Linked DNA regions of Homo sapiens. The protein of the gene in region 1 interacts with the protein of each later gene in a pairwise test. Each region holds a gene or a part of one and is shown on either strand. Other genes may lie near its edges.

The links.
Region 2: the proteins of DHRS2 (region 1) and ZHX2 interact in a two-hybrid assay, tested with the Homo sapiens proteins (one large-scale study listed by BioGRID and IntAct).

Annotation. Positions count from the first base shown.
Region 1 is NC_000014.9:23,642,613-23,646,317, reverse strand, and holds the end of DHRS2 (dehydrogenase/reductase SDR family member 2, mitochondrial), read right to left. Parts: intron 3,167-3,705; coding exon 3,099-3,166; intron 2,208-3,098; coding exon 2,156-2,207; intron 1,910-2,155; coding exon 1,775-1,909; coding exon of another isoform or gene 1,764-1,774; intron 1,492-1,763; coding exon 1,436-1,491; intron 1,177-1,435; coding exon 1,065-1,176; coding exon of another isoform or gene 1,016-1,064; 3' UTR 679-1,015; downstream 1-678. UniProt on the Homo sapiens protein: NADPH-dependent oxidoreductase which catalyzes the reduction of dicarbonyl compounds. Displays reductase activity in vitro with 3,4-hexanedione, 2,3-heptanedione and 1-phenyl-1,2-propanedione as substrates.
Region 2 is NC_000008.11:122,949,112-122,952,928, reverse strand, and holds part of ZHX2 (zinc fingers and homeoboxes protein 2), read right to left. Parts: intron 2,039-3,817; exon of another isoform or gene 1,638-2,038; 5' UTR 1,419-1,637; coding exon 1-1,418. UniProt on the Homo sapiens protein: Acts as a transcriptional repressor. Represses the promoter activity of the CDC25C gene stimulated by NFYA.

The DNA.
Region 1 (3,705 bases):
TAAGATGCACAAATGCTTTTGTAATTGAACCATTCACACCACAAGGACCCGTCCCCGGCTGGTGTGGAGAGGAGGTGTTGCTGAAGGGCTTCCATGAGACCAAGGCCGGGGGTCAGCTTGGAAGCCTTGTCTCAGTTCCTCCCTCTGGACTGGTTCAGGACAACATTTATGGGTGGCAAGAGTGGTGCTCAGGGCCACGGATGGCTCGAGGACCACTGTTCCCCCTCCACTGTGCTGAGCCTCAGTATGCATACACAGAGGGCGGTGCCCCCGAATATGACTCAGGACAATACACAGGGCCTTTTCTGAGAAAGCCATGTGTTCACCCCAAGAGGAACTTCAGCTCTGACTACTCTCCTCTAACTGGAATTATGCACAAGATTCGGTATAACTGTTTTCTCTGGGTTCTCAAAGGCCTGTGTGGCCCAGAAAACATTAAGAAGTATTAGCCTGGAGGACCCCTGGGAGAACCCCAGAATCTTTCCACTGTCACCCACCACCACCTTGCTGAGCCCCCAGCAGGCCCAGTTCAGATAATGGAGCACACACAAAGCCTTCTGCAAGGCAGCACACTCACTCCCGCCTCTGTGTGTCTGCGACGAGCTCAGGGCAGCTGGCGGTAGAGGCCTCTTCCCACCATGCTGCCCTGGGCTCTACCCTTGACAGATGCTTCCAGACTTGAGGATAAATTTGAGTTTATTTTAGGAAAAAAAATGCTTAAAGCACAAATTACAGAGAGGAGGAGCTGAAATCCTTCAAAGGCCTGAGCTTCTACTCCTTTCCCTTAAGATTCCTCCAAAGCACCAGCTCCATAAAATCCTTCAGCTCCCCAGACCCACACCAAGAACCCCACATGTTAATTGGATCAGCCAAATCTACAAGCAGATAAGTCCTAAGGAGAATGCCGAAGCGTTTTTCTTCTTCCTCAAGCCTAGCATGAGTAAGCCCCCAAATTGCTAGTCTGGCAGAATGGCAGACTCTGCCTCCAGATCCAAATGATCACCTAGACACCCCCTCAGGCTCCTGGGCCTGGGACCACAGCTACGCAGCCGCCCCCACTCCTCTCAGAGCCGAGTGGAGTAGCCTGCCACCGCAATGTTCTCCCCGTTGACGTAGCTGGCATCTGGAGAGCACAGGAAGGACACGATTCCTGCACAGTCCTCTGACTCCCCAATCCTGGATGGAAGAAGGACACAGTGTCAAGCATCTTGTACTCTGATTCTGCTGCTCTGGGGCTCACGGATGACAGGTGGGAGTGGGCTCCATGGGGAACAAGGTGGATGCAGCAGGGCTACTTGCACCCTCCAGGGCCATGTGGACTCCAGATTTCAGCAAAAACAATGGCCAGATGACAGGGAGGGGTCTGCTCTTGCAATAGACTCAACTGCCCCTGCCTAGCCACACATGGACCACCAAATCTCCAAACCCCACTTGCCTCTGCAGCTGATGATGTTCCTTGAAGTTCTTCCAGAGAGACTCATTCCCATGAAACTGGGCAAAGGGAAGAAATGAAGGAGTCAGTGCTACTAAAACAAGATGGGCAGGGCCCCGGGAAGGCCACCAGGCAGAACACCTAGGGCAGCTTTGCCCTTCTCAAAAGAAGGAGCATCTTTTCAGGATGGATGGACTGCACCATGGCTGAGTTCAGAGAACAATGAGGACCTCAGTCATAGGCATGCTGACCTAAGGATTCAGTCACCCCTTGATCCCTTATTCACTGGGAAGGGTTCCCACTGAGCCAGACTGGGAGATGGAAGACACACCCAATCCTCACCACTTTGCTGAAGTCAGTTTTGATAATTCCTGGAACCACGCAGTTTACCCGGATGTCCTTGGGGGCCAGCTCCAATGCCAGTGTTCTAGTGAGACCCAGCAGCGCTGTCTTGCTGACATTGTAGACACCCAGCGCCTGGGAAGGGAATTGACAGAGTGATTAGGATATGGGAGAGTGGGGGAAAGCATCAGTTGGATTTCTCACCTACAGGGATCTCACAGGCCCAGCAGCCCTCCCACCCACATGGAGACAAGCTCAGCCCAGGGCAGCAGGAGGATGGTGGGGGTCTGTCCCAGGCACTTTGTCTGTAAGGCTCTGAGGAAAAGAACAAAGTTGCCCCTCACCCTATACCACTCAGGAGCACAAGGACCAAGCACTTACCACTACTGGATTATAAGCTGCAATGGAAGAGACCAGGATGACAGCACCCCTCCTGAGACAAGACAAACATAAGAGAAGCTGAAGCTAAGAGCTTACCACTGATGGTGACACTATCATGAGTTCATTAAATGATGCAACCCTCACAGAAGCAACACAGGTCCTATTACTGTCCCCATCTCAGAGTTCAGAAAACTGAGGCTCAGAAAGGTTTAGTACCAGCCAATACACGGCAGAGCTAGGATTCCATGCCTATTTCTCATAAATACGATGTCCATGCTCAGAACCCTTATCTTCTGCTTCCTCTCTTGCCAGGTGCTTGAAGGAGAGGGCAGGGTGGGCTTTGTGAAGAGGCACCCAAGGCTGATGGTGAGTGCCTATCAATGAGCAACCTCTAAGGAGCAGATGGGGTAAGGGAGACCAGAAGTGACAGTCAGGAACTTTCCTTCTACTGAAGACAGCCCCTGGCCAGTTCCTAAGGGTGTGTCTGTGAGGGGTACAGTCAGATCTGCAGGACCTGGAACACAGGCAGGGTCCCTGGAGACCAAGCGCAGGCATGAGGAGAGGTCTGGGACAGGCTTTTTCCTATGGAGAGGAATGGGGCTAACCCTGTCATTGGTTTTAAGTTGGTAAGAACAGAGAGCAGGTAAGGTGACAATGACCAGCCCACAAGGTCAAGGAGTTAAAGCATAGCCTTGTCCCAAACCTGCTGATGTCAAGGCCAAGGAGGCTATGCCTGGGCCCCTGGAATACTACTCTCATCCTGCAGCCACTGGAATTGGGAATGGCAGCCACACAGATGGGGAGGCAGGACAAGAAGATGAGGGATGTGGAGATCCCAGACCTCTTCTGTCCTCTACCCACTACTGGCTGTGCTACCGACTGTATTTCTGTGCCCACCTCAGGTCCCCAACTCCGACTGGTCCCCACCCCCGCCCTGCCATACCTGTTCTCCATGTAGGGCAGCAACTGGCTCAGCAGCAGGGCTGGGGACTTCACGTTCACACTTAGGATCTGAAATCAGAGCAGAGCATGGGTGAGGGCAGAGAGACATGGTCAGCCCAAGTCCTGCTCTCATAAGACACTTGGAGCCCTGTAATTTGTGCAGTAGACCCAATGTATGTGCATATAAGAGAAACCAATCCCCCTTCTGACTGGTGCAAGAGGTATTTCCAATTTGCTAATGGTTTCATAGGCAGGCAGGCTAAGTCACAGGCCTGTGAGCAGAGCCCTGAAAATGTGAATTGTTCAGGACTGACACGAGGAAGGAAATGTTCAGGCCTTTTAAAGAAAATGGGGACTGGGGGCAGTGGGTCATGCCTGTAATCTCAGCACTTTAGGAGGCCAAGGTGGGAGGATTACTCAAGGCCAAAAGTTCAAGACCAGCCTGAGCAACATAGTGAGACCTTGTCTCTACAAGATTTTTAAATAATTGGCCTGGTGTGGTGGTGCACACCTATAATCCTAGCTACTCAGGAGGCTGAGGCAGGAGGATCCCTTAAGCCCAGGAGTTTGAAGCTGCAGTGTGCCATGATCATGCCACTGCACTCCAG
Region 2 (3,817 bases), on another chromosome or scaffold:
ATGAGCCGGTAAACCTCGGCATCGTCAGGGAACTGGCTCTGGAGAAAGCTGGCCTTGAGATGTGCTATCTGCTCCTTTGTCTTCTTGCGGTCACTGGCTGGTGTGAGCGGGGGGTTGGCCACCTTGGGTGGGGGCTCTGGCACCTGAGCGATGTGTGGACGCTTGGGTTCGGGGGCAGCTTGGGGAGTCACCAAGGGTCTCTTCTGGCCATGGTTGGTGACTCCTGCCACGGCAAGTGTGATGGGGGAGCAAGAGACGGTTGTTGACCCGCTGGTCACCTGAGTCAGCACCAGGCTAGTCTGGCCGAGGATCTGGCACGGTAGAGCCGTCTGGAGGATGGGCTGCGTCACCTTTGTGGGGGCCAACTGGGCGGGCAGCACAGTGATGGTCGGGGGTACTGACTGGATGGTGCCGTTGAACATCTTCTTCCGGGCCTCCTCCACCTCTTCTGGGGACCAGCTGATGCCATGCTTTAAGCGCTGGGTGGCAAACCAGATTCTGATGTGCTCCTCTGGGTGTTTGGAGGCAGCTGTCAGCCAGGACAACTCAGCCTGGGTCGGGTAAGGAAACTTGTTGAAAGAGTTGATCATCGTGGCATTTGTATCCAGGGCAGAGTTGTATTTGGTAGTATTTAGTGGGACAGGGACCTTGGGCACAAGGTTGATATTTGGTGGCAGCTGTACAGAAGGCATGACGTGTCCTAATGTGTCTTGGAGGAGCTCCACCCCGCCGAGTCTCGAGAGGATCTCAGCTGTGTCTGTCACCAGGCGGGCGGTCCCTTCCACGTGGTTCTCGGGGGTGATCTCCTCGGGCTTCTTGGGCACCTTCTTGGCATCCGCTTTTGGTTTTCCAGGCTTCATGATGGGGGTTTTACTCACCGAGATCCCAGAATCACTGTCACCAGTTCCAGGGCCACTGGTGGTGATGGACACGACATGGTTGGTGGTTTCGATGGACTGTTCCAAGACAGTTTGATTATTGCGTTTAATTAACTTCAGCTTGAAGTTGGCCTCCCCGGGATGGAACTTGGAGTTGTGGTCGGATAGGGAGTCGTACTTTTTGGTTGTGAAGTTACATTCTGCACACACGTAGAGGGGGTTGAGAATCACGTTGGGATGCTGCATGTCGACATGCTCCGTGAACTCGTTCAGGTTTTGCGTGGAGTAGGGGCAGTATTTGCACTCATAACCACCTTGGAGTTTTTTGGACTGGCTTTCCCCCATAGATTTCACCTCTATCACTTCGTTTTCTTTGGAAGAGTTTTCAAGTTCTGCTGCCCAACTGTCCTTGGCCACGTCAGGCTGTGGTGTGCCGATTCCTTTCTCTTTGGCCCTGTCTACTTCCTCGGGCACATCTTGTTCTACTACTTGTGATGTCCGAACCATGCATGGAGTTGTAGATTTTCGTTTGCTAGCCATGCTGCCTGTCTGTGTGCAATGGCTTATTTTTGGAGGGGGATAAGGAGGGGGCGGTGAGATTCTTGGAACGAATAAGGTGAAAGGCTTTTGGCTTTATTCCCCCTCAAATGGCTTTGGCTTTCCTTGTGTGCTGAAGTCTACTGTTTGAGTTTTCAGAATGATTTCAGCACAGAAAATTGGAATGGCACCAACCACTAAACACACCAGGAAGCATCATATCTGTGGACAAGAACAAAGACAGGGTCAGTGTCTCTTCACAACGCAAAAGAAACTGGCACTTCTTTATGAGTTTTCCCATGACCCAGCCCAACAGGCACCCAAATCGAACATCTATGGATGCACAGACGGCGTGAAAGTGCTTAGAAACACGAAAAATCACATTCTTCTTCTCTTCCTTTTTTTGGAAGGAGGTGAAAACAGGCCCAAACCAAACAAACATGGATGAGGGTCACCATTTCATGTTTGGAGACAAAGGAATACAGGAAAGGTAGACAGGTCCTAAAATCCTCTGAAGCGGTGAGAGGGAGTCGCAGATGGTGTGCTTGCAAGCCACTTTTAGATATGGTACCTCGGAAGCGAGATGTGTCCCCAGGGGTTGGCAAGTGAAATTTACTCAGGCGCTAGAAAACAGATATGAACATTTTGCTTATCATAAAAGCAAAATCATGATAGAAAATCCAGAAAATGCAGAAAAGTATAAAAGAAAAAAAAAGCAATCACCCCCCCAATATTGCAGTTTTATAGTTCATCTCACTTAAACAGTTTCCCATTTCCATAAATAGTGAGCAAAATAATGATTTTAAAAATCATTATTTCATCACGTGATGAAATCATCACGTGTGGTATATCCCTATAATGCATGTTAGTACATTGTAGGGATAGACCACACATGATACGTTCAGCCATTGGACTTTTTTAAAATTTTATTTTAAGTTCTGGGATACATGTGCAGAATGTGCAGGTTTGTTACATAGGTATGCATGTGCCATGGTGGTTTGCTGCACCCATCAACCCGTCATCTAGGTTTTAAGCCCTGCATTCATTAGGTATTTGTCCGAATGCTCTCCCTCTCCTTGTCCCCCATCCCCCAACAGGCCCCGGTGTGTGACGTTCCCCTCCCTGTGTCCATGTGTTTTCATTGTTCAACTCCCACTTATGAGTGAGAACATGTGGTGTTTGGTTTTCTGTTCCTGTGTTAGTTTGCTGAGAATGATGGCTTCCAGCTTCATCCATGTCCCTGCAAAGGACATAAACTCATTCTTTTTTTTACAGCAATTGGACTTTTGTTGGAAATTTATTTCGTTTTTGGCTCTTATCAACAAAACTGCAGTGAATACCCTTAATCCTTATTTTTGATAACTACCTTTGGATGGATGCCTAGAAGTGGTTCTCTTGACCCATATGTATGGCAGAGTTTTGGCCTCAACTGGCCTTTTCTTTGGTAGTGTATGAGAGGGCTTGACTTACAATCCAGCCTATACAGCTGGATCCAGCCTATTTACAGTAGTAAATACTACTCACAATCCAGCCTATTTAACAGTAGTAAAATACTACTGTTAAAAAGCCTTGCTGATTAGATAGGGAAAAACAGTTTTTTGGATTTTTGTTTGTTTCTGAGACAGGGTCTGGCTCTGTCACCCAGGTTGCAGTGCAGTGGCACAATTCTAGCTCACTGCAGCCTCTATCTCCTGGGCTTAAGCAATCCTCCATCTCCTGGGCTCAAGTAATCCTCCTGCCTCAGCCTCCTGAGCAGCTGGAACTACAGGCACACACCACCATGCCCAGCTAATCATTTAATTTTTATTTTTAGTAGAGACAGGGTTTTGCCATGTTGTCCAGGGGTTTTGCCATGTTGTCCAGGCTGGTCTCCAACACCTGGGCTCAAGTTATCCACGTGCTGCTGTCTCCCAAAGTGCTGGGATCATGGGTGTGAGCCATGCCTGGCCAAGAAGACTGTTTTAATATGCTTGTATGCTTTTCTTGATTGACAATAAGGTTGGATTGTTTTCAAAGATTTGCCCACTATTTATATTCTTTTATGAATTGTCTGCTTATGTCATTTTTATTTAGACATTCAGTGGTTTTTATTATGAATTTGCAAGAATTCTCTTTACATAAATAATACTAATGCTTTACTAAGTTTGTTGCAAAACTTTTCCCAGTCTATCATTTTCCTTTTTTTCTTTTCAGATAGAGTTTTGCTCTTGTGGCCCAGGCTGGAGTATAACGGCGCGGTCTTGGCTTACCGCAATCTCTGCCTCCCAGGTTCAAACGATTCTCCTGCCTCAGCCTCCTGCATAGTTGGATTACAGGCATGCGCCACCACGCCAGGCTAATTTTGTATTTTTAGTAGAGATGGGGTTTCTCCATGTTGGTCAGGCTGGGCTCAAACTCCTAAC